Linked DNA regions of Homo sapiens: regions 1 and 2 are each linked to region 3. Evidence: fine-mapped expression QTL. A gene starts in region 3. Each other region holds a variant in brackets. All regions are shown on one strand. Distances are between the middles of the regions.

Region 1 (11,199 bases), 560 kb before region 3:
CAAAAATGAAGTTCATGGAGTGGTTCCCTCTAAGGATACACTGGGTCTCAACCAAGGGTGATTTTACCTTTCAGAGGACATTTGGCATGTCTGGAGAAATTTCTGGCTGTCATAACTTGTAGATTTGTAGGGTGAAGGGTGGTAGGTGATACTGGCATCTAGTGAGTAGAGGCCAGGGATGCTGCTAACCATCCCACAATGCACAAGACAACCCCCACAACATATTAACATTTTGGGCCAGATAACTCTTTGCTCTGGAGGCCTGCTCTGGACGTGTAGCATGTTTAGCAGGATTCTCACTAGATGCCAATGGCACAACCCCTCAGTTGTGACAACCAAATATGTCTTTAGACATTGTCAAAAGACCCCTGAAGGGAGCAAAATCACCCCTGGTTGAAAACCACTGCTCTCAGAGAAGGCATGGAGATGGGAACGAGAAAAGGTAGACATACAGTTTTACCAGCATGGGTAACGTTCATTGGCAAAGGTCTCTCTTCATGTTTATGACATGATCTTCCATGGGGCTTAACTTTTGCTATGTATGAGTGGGCATGGCATAATGCAGGCCAGATACTCTAGCTCTCTGTTTGACATTAAACAGACCCCTTCAGAAGAAAATGAAGATCAACTCCAAACTGGAGAAATCCAACTGTAAAACAGTTTCAGGAGAACTTGATATTACATGTGGGCAAAGAGTAGCTGTCAAGAGCTTAGCAGATTTTTGTTTGTTTGTGTTTTTTGTTTGTTTTTGAGATGGGGTCTTGCTCTGTTGCCCAGGCTGGAGTGCAGTGATGCAATCATGACCCACTGCAGCTTCGAACTCCTAGGATCCCGGTAATTCTTCCACCTCAGCTTCCTGAATAGCTGGGACCAGAGGTACCCATCACCATGCCTGGCTAATTTTTGTACAGGTGGGTCTCTCCATGTTGCCCAGGCTTGTCTTGAACTCCTGGGATAAAGCAATCTGCCCACCTTGGTGTCCTGCCCCGCCCTTGTTTTATTTTTGATTTTAGGACTTAGCCATAATAGTATGGAGAGATAAAACCAAAAAAGCATTTTATAAATCTTACCCTGGTATCTTCACTGATGTAGCCACACATGACCTTCTCATTCTTAACCCACAGTTCACCAGCCTGTGCTCTGAAAGAATACACACACAAGTTATTACAAGTCTTACATGAAACCAATACATGCCTGGTGCAATAGCTCACGCCTGTAATCCCAGCACTTTGGGAAGCCAAGGCGGGCGAATTACCTGAGGTCAGGACTTCGAGACCAGCCTGGACAACATGGTGAAACCCCATCTATACTAAAAATCCAAAATTTAGCCGGGCATGGTGACACATGCCTGTAGTCCCAGCTACTCAGGAGGCTAAGGCAGGAGAACTGCTTGAAGTCACGAGGCAGAGGTTGTAGTGAGCCAACATCATGCCACTGCACTCCATCCTAGGCAACAGAGTGAGATTCCGTCTCAAAAAATAAAAATAAAACAAACCAAAAAGAAATAGGGGCAACTTCAGGTGGCTCTGCTACTTATACTCAAATGACCTAACTGGTTACAGATTTCCAGAGAACTCCGTGAACAGATTATCCAATATAAAGAACTCTCATACTATACTGAATATGAACAGGGGCTCTTAATCTGGGAGTCCACATATAGGTCTAAAGAAGGGCTTCTTGGCCAGGCATGGTGGCTCACGCCTGTAATCCCAGCACTTTGGGAGGCCACGGAGGGCAGATCACGAGGTCAGGAGTTCGAGATCAGCCTGACCAACATGGTGAAATGATGTCTCTACTAAAAAAAAAAAAAATTAGCTGGGCGTGGTGGCATGCGCCTGTAATCTCAGCTACTCAGGACGCTGAGGCAGGAGAATCACTTGAACCCAGGAGGTGGAAGTTGCAGTGAGCTGAGATCGTGCCACTGCACTCCAGCCTGGGCGACAGAGCGAGACTGTCTCAAAAAAAAAAAAAAAACTTAGGGCCAGGTGCAGTGGTTCATGCCTATAATCCCAACACGTTGAGAGGCTGAGGCGGGTGAATCACCTGAGGTCAGGAGTTCGAGACCACCCTGGCCAACACAGCGAAACCCCATCCCTACTAAAAATACAAAAATTAGCTGGGCATGGTGGCACCTATAGACCCAGCTACTTAGGGAGGCTTAGGCAGGAGAACCGTTTGAACCCAGGAGGCGGAGGTTTCAGTGAGCCGAGATCGCACCACTGCACTCCAGCCTGGGCAACAGAGCGAGACTCTGTCTCAAAAAAAAAAATAATAATAATTAACTAATAGCAACTTGGTATTACATTTTTGGGAATGATGTTTTTTCCTCCATGCATTTTTGAGGGCAAGAAGTAGATAGTACGAGAATGGGTGCAGTGGCTCATGCCTGTAATCCCAGCACTTTGGGAGGCCAAGGCAGGTGGATCACCTGAGGTCAGGAGTTCAAGACCAGCCTGGCCAATATGGTGAAACCCCCTCTCTACTAAAAATACAAAAAATTAAATGGGCATGGTGGTGGGTACCTATAATCTCAGCTTCTCAGGAAGCTGAGGCAGAATCACTTGAACCCCGGAGGCAGAGATTGCAGTAAGCCAAGATCGTGTTATTGCACTCCAGCCTGGGCAACAAGAGCACAACTCAGCCTCAAAAAAAAAAAAAAAAAAAAAGTGAATAGTACAGTAGAAAAAGTAAAGCATGGCTTTCAGACTTGACTGGCCTGAAGAGAAACTGGTCTAGGCAAGAATCCCAGCTGAGTGACACTTACTACGTGAATGGCCATAGTAAATTCATGAGGTTCAGTGGCATTATCTTTAAAAATGAGACAATGGGCCGGGCACGGTGACTCACACCTATAATCACAACACTTTGGAAGGCCAAGGTTGGCAGATTGCTTGAGCCCAGGAGCTTGAGACCAGCCTAGGTAGCATAGTGAGACCCTGTCGCTATAAAAAATACAAAAAATTAGGCAGGTATGGTGGCACATGCTGTAGTCCCAGCTACCTAGGAGGCTGAGGTAGGAGGATCGCTTGGGCCTCACAGGTCAAGGCTGTAGTGAGCTGTGATCGCACCACTGCACTCCAGTCTGGGCAACAGAGTGAGACTATTGCAAAAAACAAAACAAAAAAACAAACAAAACAAAAGAGACAATGAAGCCTACGCCTTACAGAGCTGCTTTCACTTTTTTTTTTTTTTTTTTTTGAGATGTAGTCTCGCTCTGTCGCCCAGTCTGGAGTGCAGTGGTGCGATCTCAGCTCACTGCAACCTCTGACTCCCTGGTTCAAGCGATTCTCCTGCCTCAGCCTCCCGAGTAGCTGGGATTACAGGCACGTGCCACCATGCCCAGCTAATTTTTTATATTTTTAGTAGAGATGAGGTTTCACCATGTTGGCCAGGCTGGTCTCGAACTCCTGACCTTGTGATCCGCCCGCCTTGGCCTCCCAAACTGCTGGGTTTACAGGTGTGAGCCACTGTGCCCAGCCTTCTACAGAGCTGTTTTCAAATTAAACCAGATAATGTGGGGAAACTGTTCAGGACAGTGTGAGGATAGGGCGTGCTCAATTAGTTTACTAGCAAGAACTAGAACTACAGCAGGTATTAACACAAAATGCTATCCTGGAGAGAAAGTGGTAGCTATTAGCTGAGCACCGTGTAATCAATCATCCCTCAACCAACCACCTCAAGCCCTTATCTTCTACCAATTTCACTCTTTCTCCCAACCTGCCTCACCTAAGCAATCAGTCCTCATAAAAAAGGAAGACAAAGGCCAGGTGCAGTGGCTCACATCTGTAATCCCAACACTTTGGGAGGCCGAGGTGGGTGGATCATGAAGTCAGGAGTTTGACACCAGCCTGGCCAACATGGTGAAACCCTGTCTTTACTAAAAACACAAAAATTAGCCAGGCGTGGTGGCAGGTGCCTGTAATCCCAGCTACTCGGGAGGCTGAGGCAGGAGAATTGCTTGAACCTGGGAGGCAGAGGTTGCAATGAGCTCAGATCGCACCATTGCACTCCAGCCTGGGCAACAAGAGTAAAACTCTGTCTCAAAAAAAAAAAAGGAAGGAAGACAAAATCAGATAAAAGCCAGGAAAATGCTGTGTACCATGAGTCATAGTTCAGGCTACCTAGGAAATGCTGGACAATCAATCAATCCCTCTGGGTCTACCCCATGCCAAAATGAAGAAGGCTGGACCAGGCCCATGGCTTATACCAAGTGGGATGCTTTTTCATACTCCTTTGCCCAGTTACGTCTGTGAATGAACAAGTGTCACAAGCCTGACCTCAGAAGAGACTTGTATTTCTTTAATATTGTAATAAGGAGGTCAGGCACGGTGGCTCATGCCTGTAATCCTAGCACCTTGGGAGGCCGAGGTGGGTGGATCACGAGGTCAAGAGATCGAGACCATCCTGGCCAACGTGGTAAAACCCCGTATCTACTATCTTGCTATGTTGCCCAGGGTGGCCTCAAATTCTTGGGCTTGAGCGATTCTCCCACCTCAGACTCCCAAGTAGGTGAAACTACAGGCACAAGCAGCCACACCCAGCTAATTTTTTTGTATTTTCAGTAAAGACGGGGTTTCACCATGTTGTCTAGGCTGGTCTTGAACTCCCAGACTCAAGCAATCTGCCCACTTAAGCCTCTCAAAGTGCTGGGATTACAGGCATGAGCCACCGCACCCAGCCAGCTCTGCTTATAATCGTCAGAACCCCACATTCACAGGACCTCTAAAACAAGCTTGGTGTGGCTGGAGGTGGTGGCTCACGCCTGTAATCCCATCACTTTGGGAGGCCGAGGCAGGCAGATTACCTGAGGTCGGGAGTTCAAGACCAGCCTGAAAAACATGGTGAAACCCCATCTCTACTAAAAACACAAAATTAGCCAGGCATGGTGGCGGGTGCCTGTGATCCCAGCTACTTGAGAGGCTGAGGCAGGAGAATTGCTTGAGCCTGGGAGGCAGAGGTTGCAGAGCCAAGATCACGCCACTGCACTGCAGCCTAGGTGACAGAGTGAGACTCGTCTCAAAAAAAAAAAAAAAAGTTACAATGTGATCCAACAGGCTAGGGTTTAAGGTCATTATTTTTTAAAAGCAAAATGTTAGTCAACAGGAGACAAGATTTTGCTACTATATATATATTTTTTGTTGTTGTTGTTGTTTTGTTTTGTTTTTTTGAGACAGGGTTTCGTTCTTGTTGCCCAGGGTGGAGTGCAATGGCACGATCTCGGCTCACCACAACCTCTGCCTCCCAGGTTCAAGCAATTCTCCTGCCTCAGCCTCCCGAGTAGCTGGGATTACAGGAGCCTGCCATCATGCTCAGCTAATTTTGTATTTTTAGTAGAGACAGGGTTTCACCATGTTCGCCAGGCTGGTCATGAACCCCTGACCTCAGGTAATCCACCCACCTTGGCCTCCCAAAGTGCTGGGATTATAGGCGTGAGCCACCACACCCGGCTCATGTGTTCTTAACTATGTAACTATTACCAGATTGAAAGTTAAATTGCAGGGAAATTATTTGACCATTTGTAATGACTTTAACTATACAAATGACTATACTTTATTTTTCTCACAGGAGGCCCACAGCATCTTTTTTCTCAGGCATTCACGAAGTCAGCAAAAGAAAGTAACCTTTGATCCAGTGTAGAAATACTGTAAGTCTTCTGGAGAAAAGATAGAAGACTGTAGTTTACATTTAACCAAGCCTGAGCAAAATATCAGGACAGATCTTTAAAAGTCTAAAAGAGGCCAGCTGCGGTGGCTCATACCTGTAATCCCAGCACTCTAGGGGGCTGAGCCAAGAGGATCGTTTGAGCCCAGGAGTTGGAAACCAGCCTGAGGAACATAGTGAGACCCTGTCTCTACCATAATGAAACAAAAACAAAAACAAAAAAAGAGCCAGGCATGCTGGCACGCACTTGTAGTCCTAGCTACTCAGGAGGCTGAGGTGGGAGTATTGCTTGGGCCTAGGAGGTTGAGGCTGTAGTGAGGCATGATGGCACAACTGCATTCCAGCCTGGGCGATAGAGGAAGCCCATCTCAGAAATAAATATATAAAAATAAAGTTAAAAAGTGACAATCTGTCAGGGTTTTCTTTTCTCCATCTAGAACTGTGTGTATGAGGGTATTTACATAGAGAAACAAAGAACTTAAAAAAGAAAGAGATCAGCCAGGCGTGGTGACTTACATCTGTAATCTCATCACTTTTGGAGGCCAACGTGTGCAGATCACTTGAGGCCAGGAGTTCGACACCAGCCTGGCCAACATGGCAAGACCCCGTGTCTACTAAAAAAACAAAAATTAGCTGGGCATAGTGGTGCATTCCTGTAGTCCCAGCTATTCAGGAGGCTGAGG[T/C]AGGAGAATCACTTGAAACCAGGAGGCAGAGGTTGCAGTGGGGAGATATCATGCTACTACACTCCAGCCTAGGCAACAGAGAAAGACTCTGTCTCAGAAATAATATATATAATATATATATAATTTAAAAATAAAAGAGGAAGCAATAGAAAAAAAAATGAGAGAGATCTGAATAGGTTTCCAAACCGAGGCTGGCAAACTACATACAGCCTTCAAGCCAATTCTCGCCTATCTCCTGTTTTCATATGGCCCATAGCTAAGAATGGCTGTTACATTTTTAAATGGTCGAAACACACAGAATATGCAATAGACCTGAGATCTATTGCTACTCACAAAGTCTAAAATATTTATTAACTGGTCCTTGACAGAAGAATATTCTAAACCAACTACTCCATTTTGCAGATGTGAAGACTAAGGGTTTACCGAAGTTACCCAACATCACTCGAACCACTAATCACAGTGATGGCTAAACACTGGCTCTGCAGATACAGATCCAGGCTTCCTGACCCTGGATACCCATCCAGTAGAGATCTGCTGATACTGGAGGCATAAACCTTGGTTACATTTTTTGTGCTGCTTGAGATTTAGTCACTTCTTGGGTTGTGCTTTAGTTGCTTGGATGTTTTAAAGAACACTGACCCGCTAACAAATTTTTGTTTGTTTTCAAAGATGGGATCTCACTCTGTTGCCCAGGCTGGAGTACAATAATGCAATAATAGCTCACTGCAGCATCGACCTGTGCTTCAGTGCTCCTCCAACCTGTTTCCCAAGTACCTCAAACTAGAGGAGCCCTGACACCAACCCCCGTTCTTTTTTTTATTGTTATTTTAGCCAGAGTCTGACTCTGTCACCCAGGCTAGAAGGCAGCAGAATGATCAAGGCTCACTACAGCCTTGAACCTCCCTGGATTTAGGTGATCCTTCCACCTCAGCCTCCCAAGTAACTGGGACTACAAGCGCCACCATGACCAGCTAATTTTTGTATTTTTTTGTAGGGATGGGGTTTCAGCATATTGCCAGGTTGGTCTTGAACTCCCAGGCTCAAGCAAACTACCCACCTCAGCCTTCCAAAGTGCTGGGATTAGAGGCATGAGCCACTGCACCTAGTCCTAACTGTGTGTGTGTGTGTGTGTGTGTGTGTGTGTGTGTGTGTGTGTGTGTGTGTGTGTGTGTGTGTGTGACGGAGTCTTGCTCTGTCACCAGGCTAGAGTGCAGTGGTGTGATCTCGGCTCACTGCAACCTCTGACTCCCTGGTTCAAGCGATTCTCCTGCCTCAGCCTCCCGAGTAGCTGGGACTACAGGCACAGGCCACCACACCCAGCTGATTTTTGTATTTTTAGTAGAGATGGGGTTTCACCATGTTACCCAGGATGGTCTCGATCTCCTGATCTCGTGATCTGCCTGCCTCAGTCTCCCAAAGTGCTGGGATTACAGGTGTGAGCCAACCAGCAATTTTTTAAAAATTACTATTTCTGTAGAGATGAGGTCTTACTATGTTGTCCAGGCTGGTTTGAACTCCTGGCCTCAAGTGATCCTCACGCCATAGCCATTTTACCTGGCTCCCCACAACAAGTTTCAAAATACCCTTTTTGGGAGAAAAAATGAAGCCTCTATCCTTTCTTTCTTTTTAGGATCAGTATTTCATTCTGGTCAAATAGACCTAGTTGATGATGAAAAATTATTTACAGAAGGATTCTGGCTAATAAATGTAGAAGGGATGACTTAATTAAAAAATCACCAAAAAAAGGAAAGAAAATCACCATCTTACAACAATCCTCAATGGATGAAACCATTAGGTGAAAAGTTGATGGGGGCCGCGTGCGGTGGCTCAACGCCTATAATCCCAGTGCTTTGGGAGGCTGAGGAGGCGGGATCACCTGAGATCAGGAGTTTGAGACCAGCCTGGCCAACATGGTGAAACCCCATCTCCACTGAAAATACAAAAATTAGCCGGGCATGGTGGCACGTGCCTGTAGTTCAGGAGGCCCAGGCAGAATAATTGCTTGAACCTGGGAGGCAGAGGTTGCAGTGAGACAAGATCACACCACTGCACTCCAGCCTGGGCGACAGAGTGAGACTTTGTCTCAAAAAAAAAAAAAAAAAAGAAAAGTAGATGGGGATCTTTATAACGAGGGACTACACTGCACCCTGTGACCCCACTGAACAAGCTTAGGATCACCACAAGTCAGTTAACAAGACAAATATGCCGGGTGAGGTAGCTCACACCTGTAATCCCAGCACTTTGGGAGTCGAAGGTGGGCAGATCACGAGGTCAGGAGTTCGAGACCAGCCTGACCAACATGGTGAAACTCCGTCTCTACTAAAAATACAAAAAAAAAAAAAAAAAATTAGCTACGTGTGGTGGTGGGTAACTGTAATTCCAGCAACTCACGAGGCTGAGGCAGGATAATTGCTTGAAATCAGGAGGTAGAGGCTGCAGTCAGCCAAGGTCCCACCACTGCACTCCAGCCTGGGTGACAGAGCAAGACTCTGTCTCAGAAAAAAAAAAACAAAAAAACAAGACATAAATATGATTGTGTGTACACAGTAAATTTCAGGAAAGAAACAAGTTGTTTCTGGGGAGAGGAATGTATATTTCATGAGATACCTTTCTGAATTATTTGAATGCTTAATTATGTGCATGTTGTACTTTTTTTTTTTTTGAGACAGTCTCACTCTGTCACCCAGGCTGCAGTGCAGTGGCATGATAATGTCTCACTGCAGCCCCAACCTCCCAGGGCTCAGGCGATCCTCCCACCTCAGCCTCCTGAGTAGCTGGGACTACAGTCGCACACCACCATGCCTGGCTGTTTTTTTTTTTTTTCTCTTTTTTTTAGAGACTATTTGTCACGTGGCCCAAGCTGGTCTTGAACTCCTGGGGCTCAAGCACACTCAGCCCACCTTGGCCTCTCAAAGTGCTGAGATTACAGGTGTGAGCCACCGCACCTGAAATACTTTCTGAATTTTTTTTTTGAGGCAGGGTCTTGCTCTGTCATCCAGGCTGGAGTGTAGTGGTGTGATCCCAGCTCACTGCAGCCTCTACCTCCCAGGCTCAAGCGATCCTCCCACCTCTCAGCCTCCCGGGTAGCTGGACTACAGGCGTGTGTCACCACACCCAGCTAATTTTTGTATTTTTTTGTAGAAATGGGGTCTCACTATGTTGCCCAGGCTGGTCTTCAACTCCTGGGCTCAAGCAACAATCTACCCACCTCAGCATCCCAAAGTGTTGGGATTACAAGTGTGAGCCACCACACCCAGCCACTTTTTGAATTTAAAGGGGATTTCACAAAGTCTCTTTTTTCTTCACAAACTAAAATATAGAAATAGTTTTAATAAATCAAGAGTACAGCAATATAGTTAAAAAGGTAACAAATCAGGAGCCAATGTGCCAGTCATTTTATGTTTCTAAACCTGTTTCCTAATTTGTAAAATGAGAAAGTATGATTCAATACGTGCATCTAGGGTTTTTCCAGTTGTAAAATTACGAGTCTCTATCTCCTTTTTTTTTTCTACTTCCTTTTTTACAGAATGCCAGGGGGCTTCATCAACTTTTTCCATTAATAAGCCTCAAACTACTATAGTGCATTTTGTGGTTTGTTTGAGCTACAACAATCTAACTTTTTTTTTTTTTTTTTTGAGACGGAGTTTTGCTCTGTCGTCCAGGCTGGAGGGCAGTGGCGTGATCTCGGCTCACTGCAAGCTCCGCCTCCCGGGTTCACGCCATTCTCCTGCCTCAGTCTCCCAAGTAGCTGCGACTACAGGCGCCCGCCACCACGCCCAGCTAATTTTTTGTATTTTTAGTAGAGACGGGGTTTCACCGTGTTAGCCAGTATGGTCCTGATCTCCTGACCTCGTGATCCGCCCACCTTGGCCTCCCAAAGTGCTAGGATTACAGGCGTGAGCCACTGTGGCCAGCCAACAATCTAACATTTTATACTTTTACACATTTTATTATATGGACATCCATACGCCTCCACTGCTTTATGTAGCCCAGTTACTGCACAGATAAGGCAAGAGTGATGTAATATCTACCTGATGCCAGCAAACTCCACCTTCTGGGTGATATAGGCACATGTGCTGACCTAAGAGGAGGGGGAGAGAGGGGTAGAGAGAGGGAGGGAGGGAGAGAGGGTGAGAAAGAGAGAGAGATTGATTAACATATTAAGGCCATGAAAAATCACAAACAAGAACTCCTAGCTTTCTAATCTCTTCTACCAACCCAAAGTTGAACTAGCTTGTGAGTAATAGATTTACCCACAGGAAAACCTGTTAGGGTAGGTATGACAGTAGGTGCTTAAAGAGTTTGGCAAGTATAGATAATAGCAAAGACCAGGTGGATGATAAATGACCAGCTTTACAAATATCCTCATCTTCACATATGTTTACATACATATCTGCATTTACATACTCATTTAAATATTGTGTTGTTTCTCATTTTATCTCTCACTTTAGAAAATGGAACCCTCAACAAATTAAAATTAAGCAGATTTTTCCTGAAAATATACCCTGTATGGAAATTCTACCTATAATTTGTGGTTACATAGTATACAAAAACTTCATTTCTTTTGATTAGTGTCAAAATGGAAAAAAAAACCTCAAATGAGAATTTTCAGAACCAGTTCATAATTCTGATGAACTAATCTTTTCAAGTTGAAATGTTCATTAAAAAATTAATAAATGTGGGTGTGGTGTACTGTTTGGGTAATGGGTGCATCAAAATCTCACGAATCACCATTAAAGAACTTACTCATATAACCAAACACCACCTGTTCCCCAGTAACACGGAAATAAAAAAAAATTAAAAAAAAAAACAATTAAAATATAATAAAAATATTTTTTTTTAAAAAATGGGGCCG
Region 2 (11,199 bases), 140 kb before region 3:
TTAGATCAATTCCCTTGTTTTACAGATGAGGAAACTGAATCATGGAGAAAGGAGGGGACTTAACTAGGGTCACAAAGACTGGAGACTTTGCTGGGCGTGGTGGCTCACGCCTGTAATTATCGCATTTTGGGAGGCTGAGGCGGGAGGATTGTTTGAGACCAGGAGTTCAAGACCAACCTGAGCAATATGGTGAGACCCTCTCTCTACAAAATAAATAAATAAATAAAAAATATAGTCAGGCATGGTGGCTCATGCCTGTAATCCTAGCACTTTGGGAGGCTGAGGTGAGTGGATCACTGGAGACCAGGAGTTTCAGACCAACCTGGCCAACATGGCGAAACCCCGTCTCCACTAAAAATACAAAAATTAGCCAGGCATGGTGGTGTATGCCTGTAGTCCCAGCTACTTGGGAGGCTGACGCATGCGAATCACTTGAGCCCAGGAGGTTGAGGCTCCAGCAAACTGAGATTGCACCATTGCACTCCAGCCTGGGCAACAGAGCAAGACTCTGTCTCAAAAAAAAAAAAAAAAAATTCAATGGTTAAAGGGTACAAAAAAATAGGATGAATAAAATCTATTTGATAACATAATAGGGTGACTATAGTCAATAATAACTTAATTGTACTTTTAAAAATAAAGAGTGTAACTGGATTGTTTGTATCTCAAAGGATAAATGCTTGAGGGGATGAATACCCCATTCTCCATGATGTGCTTATTTCACATTGGATGCCTGTATCAAAACATCTCATGTACCTGTAAATATATATACCTACTATGTACCACAATAATTTAAAAAAAATAAATAATTATTTGAGCTGGTAAGAATGATAAGAGCATAACAAAGCAAAAACTGAAGACTCCAGCTGTGTCCCAAGTCCCAGTCCTGCAGTTTTGTTTTGTTTTCATTTTTTTTTTTTTTTTCTGAGACGGAGTCTTACTCCCAGGCTGGAGTACAGTGGCTCGATCTCACCTCACTGAAACTTCCACCTCCCAGATCCAAACAATTCTCCTGCCTCAGCCTCCTAAGTAGCTGGGATTATAGGCACATGCCACCACGCTCGGCTAATTTTTGTATTTTTAGTAGAGACGGGTTTTCACCATGTTGGCCAGGCTGGTCTCGAACTCCTGGCTTCAAGTGATCCACCCTCCTCGGCGTCCCAAAGTGCTGGGATTACACGCATGAGCCACCACGCCTGGGCAGCCCTGCATTTCTTTTAGAGCACATGCCAGGAACCAGAAAACTAGGAATCCTTGTTCCTGATATGAAGGTTGAGAGCCGTCTTATGCGAAGTGCCTCACATAGAATAATATGTACCTCATATAGCACTTCCGATTGGGCTGGTGCCTCTAGAATCTTTTGTAACCTATCACTTCCTCCCCACCCTCACCCCAAGGGATTGTAACACACACACAGGTTTGGGAATCACCTGGCATTGAATATATTACATTCTCACCTAGAAAGATCCAGCTGTCAGAAAAGAAATACCCCAGGGCCTTTCTTCTTCACCAGTCAGAATTTTATTGTGGCATCCTGTAGGAAGCCTGCCCCCATGCCCCAGGCTAGGTCCTATCATATTTAATATGACTTCTGTAATTCCTGTGCTTCTTTCATCACAGCATTTAACACTGAATTGCAAACAACAACAAATAGCTGTCACTGATTAAGCATTTACGATGTGCATAATAATATTCTCATTCATTTCTATAAGAACCCCTTAGGCACCAGGCTTGGTGGCTGGCTGACTCCTGTAATCCTAACATTTTGAGAAGCCTAGGCAGGAGGATCACTTGAGCCTAGGAATTTGAAACCAGCCTGAGCAACTTAGTGAAACTCCATCTCTACAAAAAAAAAAAAAAAAAAAAAAATTTTTTACTGGGTGTGGAGCCACATGCCTATGGTCCCAGCTACTTGGGAGGCTCAGGCAGGAGGACTGCTTGAGCTAAGGAGGATGAGGCTGCAGTGAGCTGTAATCATGACATTGCACTCCAGCCTGGGTGACAGAGTGAGACCCTCCCTCAAATAAAGAACCTCTTAGGTTCTGGGCTGTTAAGTAAATTTGCCCCAAATTACAAAGCTGGAAGTGGGTTCAGAACCAAGCTCCACCTCAGTTGATAGAATTTGATTTTCAGGCCAGACTCGGTGGCTCATGCCTGTAATTTCCCACACTTTGGGAGGCTGAGGTGTGCAGATCACTTGAGGTCAGGGGTTCAAGACCAGCCTGGACAACATGGCAAAACCATGTCTCTACTAAAAATGGAAGACTTAGCCAGGAATGGTGCTGCATGCCTGTAATCCCAGCAACTTGGGAGGCTGAGGCACAAGAATTGCTTGAACCCGGGAGGCAGAGGTTGCAGTGAGCTGAGATCACTCCACAGCACTCCAGCCTGGGTGACAGAGCGCAACTCTGTCTCAAAAAAAAAGGAAAGAAAAGAAAAGAAAAAAGAAAGAAAGAAAAAGAAAAGAAATTGATTTTCAGAGACAAGTGAGGCCCCAAACCTTGAGGATGCAGGCTGACTCTATCACCTTGACTCTCCAGGTTCTTCACATGAATCTTGCAAAGTCAGGTCTGCACAGGAGGGAGCTGGGGAGTCAACCCAGGAGGGAATCTCAAGGGGCTTGGAAGTGTTTTTGTGAATGTGGACTGTGGACTGCAACCTTCTGCTTGTATCTCCACCTACCCCTCACTCTAGCCTGGACCTGAGACAGATGACAATAAAACACTCCAAATTCCTGAGCTGGAATGGACCTGAGGCTCATTTAGCTAATAATTCTTTTTTTTTTTTCACTCTGTCACCCAGGCTGGAGTGCAGTGCAGTGGTTCAAACACAGTACACTGCAGCCTCAACCTCCTGGGCTGAAGCCATTCTCCTGGCTCAGCCTTTCGAGTAGCTGGGACCACAAGCTCATGCCTCCTTGCCTGGCTAATTAACAAAAAAATTTTTTTGTAGCCACACGGTCTTGCCATATTGCCCAGGCTGATCTTGAACTCCTGGGCTCAAGCAATCCTCTTGTCTTAGCCTCCCAAAATGCTGGGATTACAGGTGTGAGCCACCACACTCGGCTATGATTCTTCTTTTTATTTATTTATTTTTATTTTTTTGAGATGGAGTCTGTTGCCCAGACTGGAGTGCAATGGCACGATCTCGGCTCCCTGCAAGCTCCGCCTCCTGGGTTCACGCCATTCTCCTGTCTCAGCCTCCCAAGTAGCTGGGACTACAGGCGCCCGCCACCACACCCAGCTAATTTTTTGTGTTTTTAGTAGAGATGGGGTTTCACCATGTTAGCCAGGATGGTCTCGATCTCCTGACCTTGTGATCTGCCCCCCTCGGCCTCCCAAAGTGCTGGGATTACAGGGGTGAGCCACCGTGCCCGGCCCCGATTCTTCTTTTTATTTATTTATTTGAAACAGAGTCTTCGTCTGTCACCCAGGCTGGAGTGCAGTGGCGCAATCTTAGCTCACGGCAACCTCTGCCTCCTGGGTTCAAGCGATTCTCGTGCCTCAGCCTCCCGAGTAGCTGGGACTACAGGCACGCACCATCACACCCAGCTAATATATATATATATTTTTTTTTAGTAGAGGCTGGGTTTTGTCATGTTGGCCAGGCTGGTCTCGAACTCCTGGCCTTAAGTGATCTGCCCCACCCTCAGCCTCCCAAAGTGTTGGGATTACGGGCATAAACCGCCATGGCCGGCTCATAATTCTTATTTTAAATCTAAATTTTGAATTTCAGAATACTGTTGTTTTAAGCTCCTTTCCCCCACCAATCTACTTACCTCCCACCTCCAGTAGAAAACGCCTCATAAAAGCAGCACTCGTCGCCCCACAAGCTGTCTTTCTCCATTTCTAGTCCAGCATATGAAATCAGATTATCATATTAAAGCTTCTGGTATGTATGATGTGCAAAGACGTTCTTCTCAGTGCTATCTATAATAGCAAAGAAAATGAAAAAGGACACAACCTAAGTGTTCCACAGGAGAAACCGTTAGAGAATCAAGATCAAGATACAACCAATCATCCAGTCGGGAAGCTTTGCAGCCCGTGAAAATAAGATTTCTTTAATATTTACTTATTTTATTTTTAATTTTTATGTAATGACTTGAAAGGTACTCATGATATTATGGGTTCTCTATGGCTTTTCTTTTCTTTTTTTTTTGAGGCAGAGTCTTGCTCTGTTGCCCAGGCTAGAGTGCAGTGGTGCGATCTCGGCTCACTGCAACCTCCGCCACTGGATTCAAGCGATTCTCTTTTCCTCAGCCTTCTGAGTAGCCGGTATTACAGGTGTGCGTCACCACACCTGGCTAATTTTTGTATTTTTAGTAGAGACGGGGTTTCATCATGTTGGTCAAGCTGGTCTTGAACTCCTGAACTCATGATCCACTCGCCTCAGCCTCCCAAAGTGCTGGGATCATAGGTGTGAGCCACCACGCCTGGCCTCTCTATTGCTTTTCAAATGACAAAAGTAACTAGTTGCGTTGTAAAAATAAAACACTATATAAGTGTTTTTGTTTTTGTTTTTGAGACAGAGATTCACTCTTGTTGCCCAGGCTGGAGTGCAATGGCACGATCTCGGCTCACTGCAATCTCTGCCTCTCAGGTTCAAGCGATTCTCTTGCCTCAGCCTCCCAGGTAGCTGGGTTTACAGGCATGTACCACCATGCCTGGCTGATTTTTGTATTTTTAGTAGAGACAGGGTTTCACTATGTTGGTCAGGCTTGTCTCGAGCTCCTGACCTCAGGTGGTCCACCCACCTTGGCCTCCAGAAGTGCTGGGATTACAGGTGTGAGCCATCGTGCCTGGCGCCTCTATTGCTTTTCAAATGACAAAAGTAACCATTTGCGTTGTAAAAATAAAATAAAACACTATGAAAGTGTTTAAGATAAAAAGTGAAAGTGGCCCCAAAACACACTTACCTACAGTCCCAGTGTTAATCTGCAACATATTCATAATATACTGCTTCATTTAAGAAGCAGGAGAGGGCAGGTGTGGTGGTGGGTGCCTGTAATCCCAGCTACTCACTTGGCTGAGGTAGGAGAATTGTTCAAGCCCACAAGTTCAGGTTGCAATGAGTTATGAACTCATCACTGCACTCTACCCTGGGCGATAAAGTGAGACACTCATTTCTTAATGTAAAAAAAAAAGCATATATTCATTAGTAGTATTTTTAACAACAGTGCATTGAAACTGAAAAAAAAAAGTCAAGATGAAAATATACCAACATTTGGCCAGGCACAGTGGCTCACGCCTGTAATCCCAGCACTTTGGGAAGCTGAGGCAGGTGGATCACCTGAGGTCAAGGAGTTCAAGACCAGCCTGACCAACATGGTGAAACCTCATCTCTACTAAAAATACAAAACTTAGCTGGGCATGGTGGCAGGCGGGAGGGTGAGGCAGGAGAATCACTTGGACCTGGGAGGTGGAGTTTGCAGTGAGCTGAGATGGCGCCGTTGCACTCACTCCAGCCTGGGCGACAAGAGCAAAACTCCATGAAAAGAAAAAAACAGAGAGAGAGAGAAAAAGGAGGAGGAGGAAAAAGAAGAAGAGGAAGAGGAAGAAGAAGGAGGAGGAGGAGAAGGAAGAAAGAGAGAAAGAAAGAAAGAAAGAAAGAAAAAAAGAAAGAAAAAGAAAGAAAGAAAGAAAGAAAGAAAGAAAAAGAAAGAAAGAAAGAATATACCAACATTTTAGTACTTCTATTTAAGTGGTGAGACACTATGGATAATTTATTATCGTTTCCTCTGCTTTGCCTCATTTTCCAAATTATATTTGATGGA[G/C]AAAATAAACATTAAAAAGAAAAATAAGGCTGGGCACAGTGGCTCACGCCTGTAATCCCAGCACATTGGGAGGCCAAGGCGGGCAGATGGCTTGAGCCCAGGAGTTTGAGACCAGCCTGAGCAACGTAATGAAATCTTTGTCTCTACAAAAAATACACAAATTAGCCGGGCGCAGTGGCACACGCCTGTAATCCCAGCACTTTGGGAAGCCGAGGCGGGCAGATCGCTTCAGCCTAGGAGTTTGAGACCAGCCTGGACAACATGGTAAAACCCCTCTACAAAAAGTATAAAAGTTAGCCAGGTGTGGTGGCTGACACCTGTGGTCCCAGTCACTCTGGAGGCTGAGGAGGGAGGATTGCTTGAGCCAAGGAGGTGGTAGAAGCTGCGGTGAACCGTGATGGCACCACCACACTCCAGCCTGGGTGACAGAGCAAGACCCTGTCTTTAACAAAAAATAAAAATAGGCTGGGCTTGTGCTCACGCTCACGCCTGTAATCCCAGCACTTTGGGAGGCAGAGGTGGGCAGATCACCTGAGCTTAGGAGTTGGAGACCAGCCTGGCCAACATGGTGAAACCCTGTCTCTATCAAAAATACGAAAATTAACCAGGCATGGTAGTGCACACCTGTAGTCTCAGCTACTCGGGAGGCTGAGGTGGGAGGATCGCTTGAGCCCCAGAGGCAGAGAATGCAGTGAGCTGAGATTGTGCCACTGCACTCCAGCCTGGTTGGCACAGCAAGACCCTGTCTCAAAAAATAATAAAAATAAAAACAGCTGGGTGCAGTGGCTCACGCCTGTAATCCCAGCACTTTGAGAGGCTGAGGTGGGTGGATCACCTGAGGTCAGGAGTTCGAGACCAGCCTGTCCAACCAGTGAAATCCCATCTCTACTAAAAATACAAAAATTAGCTGGGGGTGGTGATGGGTGCCTGTAATCTCAGCTACTTGGGAGGCTAAGACAGGAGAATCACTTGAACCTGGGAGGTGGAGGTTGAAGTGAGCCGAGATAGCATTACTGCACTCCAGCCTGGGCAACAGAGTGAGACTCCGTCTAAAAAAAAAAAAAAAGAAAGAAAGAAAAAAAATTATCTGGACATGGTGGCATGTGCCTGTAGTCCCAGCTACTCAGGAGGCTGAGGCAGGAGAATTGCTTGAACCTGGGAAGCGGAGGTTGCAGGGAGCTGAGATCATGCCACTGCACTCCAGCCTGGGTGAAAGAGCGAGACTCTGTCTCAAAATATAAAAAATACAAAAATTTTTAAAAATAAAATTAAAAAATAAAAGTGTGTGGCACCTACTCTCACTTGCTCCTGTTTTCACCATGTGACTTGCCTGATCCCCCTTTGCCTTCTGCCATGATTGAAAGCTCCCTTAGTCTTCACCAGAAACTGGGCAGATGCCAGCACCATGCTTCTATAGAGCCTGCATAACCATGAGTCAATTAAACGTCTTTTCTTTTCTTTTTTTTTTTTTTTGAGATGGAGTCTCAGTCTGTCACCCAGCCTGGAGTGCAGCGATGCGATCTTGGCTCACTGCAACCTCCACCTCCCAGGTTCAAGTGATTCTCCTGCCTCAGTCTCCCGAGTAGCTAGGACTACAGGTGCCCGCCACCACGCCCAGTTAATTTTTTATATTTTTAGTAGAAACGGGATTTCACCATGTTGGTCAGGCAGGTCTTGAACTCCTGACCTCAGGTGATCCACCCACTTCGGCCTCCCAAAGTGCTGGGATTACAGGCTTAAGCCCCCGTGCCTGGCCTCTTTTTTTCTTTTTTTGAGACAGAGTTTCGCTGTTGTCACCCAGGCTGGAGTACAATGGTGTGATTTTGGCTCACTGCAACCTCCGACTCCTGGGTTCAAGCGATTTTCCTGCCTCAGCCTCCCGAGTAGCTGGTATTCCAGGCACACACCACCTTACCTGGCTAATTTTTGTAATTTTAGTAGAGACGGGGTTTCACCATGTTGGCCAGGCTGGTCTTGAACTCCTGACCTCAGGTGATCTGCCGGCCTCAGCCTCCCAAAGTGCTGGGATTACAGACGTGACCCCAAATATCTTGTCCCCACAGCATCTCCATTGCCCAGCACGGTGCGTGGCACAAATAAGACACCCATAAATACTTCTTGAATGAATAAATGAAAAAATCATTTTGGCTCTCAAATTGTCAGACATTTCACTAACCACCATTACAGCTAACCCAACATGGGAAGGACCTAGTGTTTTTATACACTGCTGTTGAATCAAATGTCACTCAGGAATCTCACCTAAAAGCTTAACTCATGCGAGCACTATGACTTTTTTTTTTTTTTTTTTTTTGAGACTGAGTCTCACTCTGTCACCCAGGCTGGACTGCAGTGGTGTGATCTTGGCTCACGGGCAACCTCCAGGAAGACCTTCAGGCACTTCTGGACATTAACTCTTTCTCTGTAATGTGCAGCTGATTTTCTTCAGTTAGACAGTTGCCTTTCACGTGTATGTATGTGTGTGGCCATGTTTCCTGCCCCCGTGTCACCAGCGATACCTTGACTCTCTCTCCTTCAGGTAATCAGGCACAAAAAAGAAAATCCTGGGGTGGGCACGGTGGTTCACGCCTGTAATCCTAGCACTTTGGGAGGCCGAGGCGGGCGGATCACTTGAGGTCAGGAGTTAGAGACCAGCCTGGCCAAAATGGTGAAACCCCATCTCTACTAAAAATACAAAAATTAGCCGGGCATGGTGGCGGGCGCCTGTAATCCCAGCTACTCTGGAGGCTGAGGTAGGAGAATTGCTTGAACATGGGAGGCAGAGGTTGCAGTGAGCTGAGATCATGCCACTGCACTGCAGCCTGGGCAACAAGAGCGAAATTCCATCTCAAAAAAACAAAAAAACAAAAAAATCCTCCCAGGTTAAAGTATAGAAATACAAACAATTACACATGAGGACTTTTTTTTTCCTTTTTGTGCCTGATTAATGAAAAGAAAGAGTGTTAAAGTCTCTGCTAGTGATGCAGAGGCAGGAAACATGGCCAATGATAAACCGTGGCCTACTGGGTCCCAGTCGGGCCTTGAAGACCACAGCACAGAGGGGCTGAGATAACTTGGACGGAGCAGGGAAGCAGGAACTGCTGAGCCTCTCCCTCCTGCAAGATCCTTGTGTAGCTGAAGGAGCTAGGCCTCCGTGTGAGGTGGAAGATTTGCCCACTCCTCCCAGTCATGAAGGAAACCCAACTGTCGAGAAAGAAAAGGGGTCCAAGGTGCTGGAGAAAGAACCTGGCTGTTGGAATCAGGGAGACCTGCGCTCAGTTTGGACCGCACAACCTTCACGAGGGCAGGCGTGGATGAACCAACTAACTTTCCAGTTGGCTCACCTATAAACAGGGGGCAATGGCTGGGTGTAGTGGCTCACATCTGTAATTCCAGCCCTATGGGAGGGTGAGGCATGAGGACTGCTTGAGGCCAGGAGTTTGAAACCAGCCTGGGCAACATAGTGAGACTCCATCTCTACAAACATTTGTAAAAATGATCTGGGCGTGGTGGCATAACCCAGAGTCCCAGCTATTCTGGAGGTGGAGGCGGGAGGATCACTTGAGTCCAAAGCATTCCAGACTGCAGTGAGCTATGATGGTGACAGTACATGCCAACCTGGGTGACAGAGACCCTGTCTCTGAAAAAACAAAAGGCAGGGACAATGATCCTACCCTCAGAGAGAGGCTATGGGGGTTAAATGAACCTCTGGCACTGTTCACCCAAAGCCAAACTATCAGCAAGGGCAGACCTTGAACTTGAACTTGTGTCTGTCTGGCTCCAAAACAACTCCATTCATGCTTGAAGTGCCATGATTGTTCAAGGAATGGTCTTGTTGCTATTGTTATTAAGAAGTTGAACAGCCCAGCATTGAAGTGAGCAAAGAAAGTCGGTTGGCTTCACATGCCTTCTAAGAAAGACTGATAAAGGCTAAAGGCGAGTGGGGCAGAAACTAGGGTGCCTCATTCCTGTGTTTCCCTCCATCTCCTCCTCCCATCAGGTCCTCAATAAAGCCTGGCAGCCTGGATTTGTGCTGAAAGCCCCTGGAGCAGGCAGAGGTACCTGCTATTCAGCATGCTTTGGGCCTTCCTCTCCCTTCCCTATCTGCTCATTCCTCAGTTTCCACACCAGTAAAATGGGAATCATCAGAGTAAGTGCCTCATAGGGTTGTTGTGAGGATTCCAGAGGGTAAACCAAGGAGTGCTCTCAGCACTATGGCTGGCACAGATAGTGCTTAACAAAGTTGTTATTATTATTATTATTTTGAGACGGTGTCTCGCTCTGTTGCCCAGGCTGGAGTGCAGTGGCACAATCTCCTCTCACTGCAACCTCCACCTCCCAGGTTCAAGTGATTCTCTTGCCTCAGCCTCCCGAGTAGCTGGGATTACAGGTGCATGCCACCACGCCTGGCTAATTTTTGTATATTTAGTAGAGACAGGGTTTCACCATGTTGGTCAGGCTGGTCTCCAACTCCTGACCTTGGGATCCACCCACCTCAGCCTCCCAAAGTGCTGGGATTACAGGCATAAGCCACTGTGCCCTGTCATTATTATTATTTTTGTTGTTGTTGTTGTTTTTGAGATGGAGTCTCGCTCTTGTTGCCTAGGCTGGAGTGCAGTAGCATGATCTCAGGTCACTACAATGTCTGCCTCCAGGGTTCAAGCCATTCTCCTGCCTCAGCCTCCTGAGTAGCTGGGACTACAGATGCCCGCAACCATGCCCCGCTAATTTTTTTTTTAGTAGAGACAGGGTTTCACTGTGTTAGGATGGTCTCGATCTCCTGACCTCGTGATCTGCCCGCCTCAGCCTCCCAAAGTGCTGGGATTACAGGCATGAGCCACTGCGCCCGGCCAATAATTTTTTTTTTTTTTAAAGAGAAATACACATATGTAGAAAAAGACCAGAAGGAAATGTTGGCAGCGCTCGACTCTTGGTGGTGAAATTACAGATCTTTATTTAATTTTTCTTCTTTGTGCTTTTGTGTATCTCCTACATTTTCCACAATGCACATAGCACTTTTACAATCAGGGAGTAACAACAAAAAATGCAATGTAAATCCTGAGAGGAGCTATCACCTGCATTTGGGCTCTTCCGGGGATGGTCCAGGGGAAGTGGATTTTAGCACAGCCTGGAAGGTTGGGAGAATGTGAACTAGGGAGAGGAGCCAGGTAAAGCCTTTTTTGTTCCTTGGTTTTTGTCTGTCTCCTCTAGACTACGGGTTCCTTGAGGGCAGGATCTGTGGTCTGGCTTGTTCACTGCTGTATCCCTAGCATCTTACAAAACAAAAGCCTGGTGCTTAGTAGGTGATCAATAAATACAAATCTAGTTAATGAATACATGACCTTGACAGCTCTGCTTAGCCTAGGAGACAAGGATATTCTCAGTTCGCTGTCCAGCTGGTCTGCTGCCAAAACTGAGGTGCATGGTTTCCA
Region 3 (6,598 bases):
GGAAAATATGAACTCTGACCACCACTGCTCATTTAGCTATGGAACCTTGTCATTTCTGGGCCTGTCTCCTCATCTATAAAAAAGCCATACTTGGCTGGGCATGGTGGCTCACGCCTATAATCCTAGCATTTTGGGAGTCCAAGGCGGGTGGACTGCCTGAGCTCAGGAGTTTGAGACCAGCCTGGGCAACATGGTAAGACCCCGTCTCTAATAAAAATACAAAAAATTAGCTGGGCGTGGTAGCACTTGCCTGTAGTCCCAGCTACTCAGGAAGCTGAGGCAGAAGATTCACTTGAACCTGGGAGGTGGAGGGTACAGTGAGTCTGGATCGCGCCACTGTACTCCAGCATGGGCAACAGAGCAAGACTCTTCCTCCCCACCCCCTACAAAAAAATCAAAAAACCATATTGACCTCCCAGCTCCAAGGCTCAAAGGCACTACATGCCTTCCTACCCTAGGGCCTTTTTATGCTGTTTCCTCTGCCTGGAATGCTCTGTGAGCTTTTTTTGCCAGGCTAACTTTTACTTATCTCCAGGGGTCAGCATAAACTTGCATTTTTAAGAAAAGTATTCCCTTCAAAAAAAAAAAAAGTAGAGGATGGGCATGGTGGTTCATGCCTGTAATCCCAGCACTTTGGGAGGTTGAGACAGGAGGATGGCTTGAAACCACCGTGGGCAACATAGTGAGACCCTGTCTCTACCAAAACAGAAAAAAAAGTAGAGAAAACCCTCACCCCTGGTGCACTCTTACAGCACTTATCTCAATTGTTTACCTTAACTATTATAGCATTTATTGCAATTGTTACAATTATTTATTGTCCATCTCTAGGATTATTAAGCACCACAAAGCCAAGAACTATGTCACCACTGTACTCAGCATTTGGCTAAGTATATGACACAGAAGAATCCAACAAATATTCTTTGAATGAAAGAAAGAATGCATAAACTAATGCATCTAGAGGCTTTATGCCTCTAGACTATTGTACTGTGAAACCTTTCACAATTTTCTAAGAAACAGGGTTCAAGACAGGCAACCTATATTACACAGCTGTTAGAAAAAGTTACTGGAAATCGGCCGGGTGCGGTGGCTCACGCCTGTAATCCCAGCACTTTGGGAGGCCGAAGCGGGCGGATCACAAGGTCAGGAGTTCAAGACCAGCCTGGCCAATATGGTGAAACCCCATCTCTACTAAATATACCAAAAAAATTAGCCGGGCGTGGTGGCGGGCCCCTGTTGTCCCAGCTACTCGGGAGGCTGAGGTAGGAGAATCGCTTGAACCCGGGAGGCAGAGGTTGCAATGAGCCAAGATTGTGCCACTGCACCCCAGCCTGGGCGACAGAGCAAGACTCCATCTAAGAAAAAAAAAAAAAAGTTACTGGAAATCATTCGAGTTGAAGGACTCTGTAAGCTTAAAAAAAATCTTTTTTAAGAGACAAGGTTTTGTTTTTAAGAGATGAAGTCTCGCTATATTGCCCAAGCTGGTCTCAAACTCCTGGACTCAAGCGATCCTCCTGCCCTGCCCTCCCAAAGTGCTGGGATTACAGGCATGAGCCACCACGCCCAGCCTAAAAAAATTTGTTTTAGGCATTTCCACCCCTAGCTCTCTCCAGAAGTCTGTTATCACCAGTGAAGAGAAAATCCCATGCTCCCTTGCTGAGGAAGTGACCCACTGGTAGCCCAGTCCTTGCATTCAAGATGAAGGAAGTGACTGTCCACAGACGGAAAGCCAGGAAGCAGGGGGCAGATAGCCAGCCCCCCTCCACCTCAATACCCTCTTGCCGCCTCTCCAAAGCTTCTGGACGCTGACCCTGGTGGACCCAGAGGTGGGCCACCCACACAGGTGGCTGGGAAACATAGGAGACAGAAGGTTCCTACTGCTGGGGGAAAAGATGGGGAAGGCAGGAAGCTGCAGGGTGGTGTGTGAGGTGGCGGGGAGGTGACTGCAGGTGCAACTAACCCAACTCTGAAGCTACCCTTCACCCTTAGACAACTCTTCCTTCCAGGAGGTGTTTGGCCGAATCCCTCTAGTCTTTAGTCTAGAGAGGCCAAGGGAGCTTCCACAGGAGGACTCAGAACCCCAGGTGGCCTACTTTCGCCACCTGTAGCAGAGATCTTTGGGCCCCAAAAAGAATGGTCCGATCTCTCCTTACCCTTAGTCCTGTCCTAAACCTCAAGGGGCTCCATACTCCCTTATTTTCTGCAAAGAGCTCCCAGCCCCGGGGGACTCCCAGACACCAAGATGCCCGCGAGAAGCCTTGGGTCTTGGCAGGGAAGTCACATCCTCCATTTCCCTCAGAAAACCCAGAACCCGGGGTAACTCTCCTAATTGTCCTGAACCCTAGAGGATCCTGTACTCCTCAAATTCCACAGAGCTTCCACTATAAGAGAACCCCATGCTTTTCAACTTCCTTAAAAAGGGTTAATTTGGGGGTCTGCGGCCGCCAGGTCCCTCCAAAAAGCTGGATTCCTGGCAGACCCAGAATCTCTTCCTCCCCGGGACCTCAACTCGCGGGAAGCCTCCCAACCCGCCTGCCCCTCGGAGCCCTCTGTCTCCAGGATGCCCTGCCTCCCCATTCCCGGAGTCCCACCCTCCAAATGCCTGGGGAGCGCTGTGCCCACCCCGCCTCCCAGCTTTTCTGAGGAGCTCGGACCCACGAGGACCCAACCAGCCCGAAACCCCCGAGAGACAGCCGGTTTCCCTCAGGCGCCATGGAACCGGACTTCGGAGATAACAGCGGGACAGGGCGGAGCAGCCCTTCCTTACCCGCCAGCGCGGACATGGTCCCGGGAGCGCGGAAATGGGGAGGAGGAGGCGGGGGACACAGCAGCTCCCCTCAGTTCCCTACAACTCCCCTCAGCTCCTGCCGCCGCCGCCTCAGGCGCGGGAAGACCACAGCCCCAGGCGCGAACGGGATGCACCGCCTACGGCGCCCTGGGAGGACCAAACCACACCTGGCACAGGGGACTGCCCGCCGACGCCCCGCCCCGCCGCTCTCAGGCCTCGCTCCCGAGACGCGGCCCCGCCCCCTGGCTCTGGCTCGGGCTCTGCAGCGGCCCTGGCGCCCCCTAGTGCGAGCGGCGTCCCCTCGAGGTGCTCCCGCCGGTAAGGTTGATTCTGCGGGGGCCGGAAGTCTCAACACGGATGACAGTCCGCACCCATCTAGTCGCCCTCATTTACAGATAGGGAAAGTTAAGGATCAGAGGCTAAGTTCGACTACATTGAAATGGCTTCGCTCATTAGGAGGAGAGCCGGGATGGGAGCCCAGGCCTGCTAACTGCCAGTTCAGAGCTCTTTCCAGTAGTGTTTGGAATCAGGAATATTACAATGGAGGAGCCAGGTCTATCCCACAAACAGCTTTGAGGATGGACTTTTCTTAGAAGCTTCTAGCTCAGAGAAACCACTTCTCTGCGCCACTATGAGTAAGCTGACAGTAAATAATCTCTAAGTCAAAGACAGTTGGAGGCGACCAACCAGCATTCCAGGAGCAGATCCTCAGCCAGGCCAATTAGGTTTAGCGCAGGACGCTGGAGCTTGTGCGCCGCATTGGAAGACGAGCACTCCCCTGCAGGAACATGGGCCTACCATTCCCAGGTCTTCCAACCTTTCAAAACATGCCAAAAATCCAGATATTTAGGTGAAATTTGCCACTTTTAAAAAATGTTGATAGCATCAAAAAGTTCTTAAAATGCCATGTAGACCAAATGAAACACACCTGGCCACTAGATTTGCCCTGTGGGCTGCCAGTTTACAATCTTCTATGAGGAGGAGGGATTACAGGACTAAGAGTTAGGACAGCTGACTGGGTTATGGCAGCTGCTAGCTGGCTGAGTAGCTTTGAGAACCACTTCCGCTCATTAGGTTTGGAAGGAGATTGGGGTCCTCTGTGTGATTAAGATATTAATACATCATCAGCCAGGCCAGCTGGTCCCTGATGACCCACCCTCCCATCAGATTCTCTCACGCTGGGTCTTTCACAATTGTCATTTCCTTACATCAGATTTAGATCACAGGAAACATGTCCAAATGACCAGAAAGAGGATGGAGCCCAGGGAAATGGATTCTGTCCCCTCCACCCCCACCCCTGACCAAAGACAAAGTTCAACCCAGCTGCCTCTGGTCCCAGCAGTTGGGTAAGCAAAGGCAAAGGCAAAGACAAAGGCGAGCACAATTCTCTTCCTTCCTGCTCTAATTCAAACCGGATGCCGGTCAGATTTTTCTCTTCTGGGTGTGGCAGGTGGCTCACGATGTCCTGAGTGTGCACAAAGTGCTGGGGAGGAGGGCTCTGTCCCATTTCCGTTAATTCCTGGGAACTCTTTTCAGTACTCAGTTTTGTAGTTTCTGAGGAAATCATTATAGTAAACACAAGATTGTGTATTGAATTAAAGTGACAGGAATCCAGAGACTCTCCTGACAAGCTGCCTCATGGCTAGCAAACAGGGGACAGGGACTTTCCCCATCCTTCCTACAGAAAGATGTAACACTGTATTTTCCCAGGCAACAAAGCACTGGCATCCTGGGAACCAAAACCTCCTGGGTGTCTTCCCTCTCCCTCCGTTCCACACCAAGGCACCCAGGTCTATCTCTTCTCCCTCCTCATTCTCTCTCACATTCCACTTCCTCCTACCTCCAGCCTCATGGTCTTCACCAGCAGGGAGCTGGGGAATAGCCAAGTCCCCCAAGTTCCTCCCAGGGAAGTTCAGGCGACTCTGAGAAACACAAGTTGAAAATGTAATGGAAGGGAATAGCTTTCTATAGAAATGCTATAGCCAAGAGATATATTTTTAATATGGACCCAAAGAACATTCCAGAAATCACTTGTGAACTCAAGGGGGACTTCTGGAGGGTAGAGAAAGCCTGGGCAGGGAGTAGACCAACTGAGTTTCAATAGCACCCAGGTTACCTGTCCACAGTTTGTTTCACTGGCCATAGCTTGGTCAGTCCCTAGGGCCAGATCCTGCCAGCCGCCTCACAGTCAACTCTCTGAGCCTAGGATCCTGAAACCTGGACCTTGAAAAACAACTCAAGGTTCTGCCCTCTTGAAGGTACTGGTCCACTGGTACCCAACCAGACTTGCCCAGTGTCACTTCCACTTGCTTCAAACTGAGCCAGTCTCTGCCCTCCCTGAATCATCCTACCCAAAACTGACTGTGTTAATCTTCCAAAAGTATGTTTCTGGACCTGTCATCTCTCTGTTCAAAACCCTTCAACAGCACCCCACTGCCTACAAAATAAAAGCCAAACCAGTCCTCATGAGCTGACTACATCTCACCCTGCGGACTTGTCTCCCTATTCCCTTCACTCCAGGACTCTGCTTTTTCCTGAGCACATCCTGCCTTGCGCCACCTGCCATTCCTACAACAACCAGCTCTCCAGGTTCTCTGTAATTTTGTGCCCCACTCTGCCCAGAGTGCAGTCTTGTTTCTCAACTCTAAATGATATAGTGGCATCTGTAACATCACAAAGTAGGACTACCAGACATTAAGTGCCTCCAGGTAAGACGCACCAAGTATATACTATCACCTATGACGTAGTCTTACAAAACAAAAATAATAAGCTTGAATCTGGTCAAGCTTCTAGATCTAACAACCAACTTACAGGAAATACATGGAGAAGAGGAGCTTAATAACATTTCCATGATGCAAATAGCAAAAATGATGCTGTGGGAAATGCAACAGGACAAATAACCTAGTTTCTTTAACAGATAAACTGCAGAGTAGAAAAAATTTCATAGACAGGCCAGGCAAGGTGGCTCACCCCTGTAATCCTAGCACTTTGGGAGGCTGAGGCGGGTGGATCATGAGGTCAGGAGCTTGAGACCATCCTGGCTGACATGGTGAAACCCCGTCTGTACTAAAAATACAAAAAAAATTAGCCGGGCGTGGTGGCGGGCACCTGTAGTCTCAGCTACTTGGGAGGCTGAGGCAGGAGAATTGTGTGAACCCAGGAGGTGGAGCTTGCAGTTAGCCGAGATCCCGCCACTGCACTTCAGCCTGGGCAACAGAGCGAGACTCTGTCACACAAACACACACACAAAAAAACAAAAAATTAGCCAGGCATGATGGCGGGCGCCTGTAGTCCCAGCTACCAAGGAGGCTGAGGCATGAGAATCACTTGAACCCGGGAGACGGGGGCTGTAGTGAGCTGGGATCGCATCACTGCACTCCAGTCTGGGCGGCAAGTGAAACTCTGTCTCAAAAAAAAAAAAAAAAAAAATTCAGAGACAAATAATAGCAATGTATGAAACTGATTTGGATCTCAATTGAAACTACACAAGTTATGAGACAACTAGGGAAATCTGAACAATGTGATTGGATATGATGATTTTAAGAAATTTTTTAAAGGTATTTTGCTTTTTTTTTTTTTTTGAGATGGAGTCTTGCTCTGTCGCCCCGACTGGAGTGCACTGGTGCGATCTCGGCTCACTGCAACCTCTGCCTCCCGGGTTCAAGCGATTCTCCTGCCTCAGTCTCCCGAGTTGCTGAGACTACAGGCGCCTACCGCTACGCCTGGCTAATTTTTTGTATTTTAGTAGAGACGGGGTTTCACTATGTTGCCCAGGTTGGTCTCAAACTCCTGAGCTCTGGCAATCCGCCCGCC

Alleles and levels. Alleles are on the strand shown, and positions count from the first base shown. SD is a standard deviation of normalised expression in the study named. Not every link is listed here.
As copies of G replace C in region 2, the expression in cerebral cortex of the gene that starts at base 2,891 in region 3 goes up (small effect, 0.23 SD a copy in GTEx).

What was found. PIP is the estimated chance that this variant, and not a neighbour inherited with it, causes the effect.
Region 1: its variant is the best candidate, but not a certain one, in a credible set for the expression of LIMK2 in whole blood (TOPMed, PIP 0.50).
Region 2: its variant is the best candidate, but not a certain one, in a credible set for the expression of LIMK2 in cerebral cortex (GTEx, PIP 0.60).

Annotation. Positions count from the first base shown.
Region 1 is chr22:31,768,040-31,779,238 of GRCh38, reverse strand. DEPDC5 (DEP domain containing 5, GATOR1 subcomplex subunit) reads right to left here. Exons shown (of 43, transcript NM_001242896.3): 7 at 10,376-10,425; 8 at 1,071-1,140. Among named protein-coding and RNA genes, the nearest start is that of DEPDC5, 20 kb to the right of the region's middle. The variant T/C (reference allele first, on the strand shown) is at 6,345.
Region 2 is chr22:31,350,647-31,361,845 of GRCh38, reverse strand. LINC01521 (long intergenic non-protein coding RNA 1521) reads right to left here. Exons shown (of 1, transcript NR_120386.1): 1 at 10,691-11,199. Among named protein-coding and RNA genes, the nearest start is that of LINC01521, 9.5 kb to the right of the region's middle. The variant G/C (reference allele first, on the strand shown) is at 5,771.
Region 3 is chr22:31,208,591-31,215,188 of GRCh38, reverse strand. LIMK2 (LIM domain kinase 2) reads right to left here and starts at 2,891. Exons shown (of 16, transcript NM_005569.4): 1 at 2,765-2,891. The coding sequence starts at 2,780. RefSeq lists enhancers at 1,283-2,208, 3,171-3,350 and a silencer at 2,791-3,190.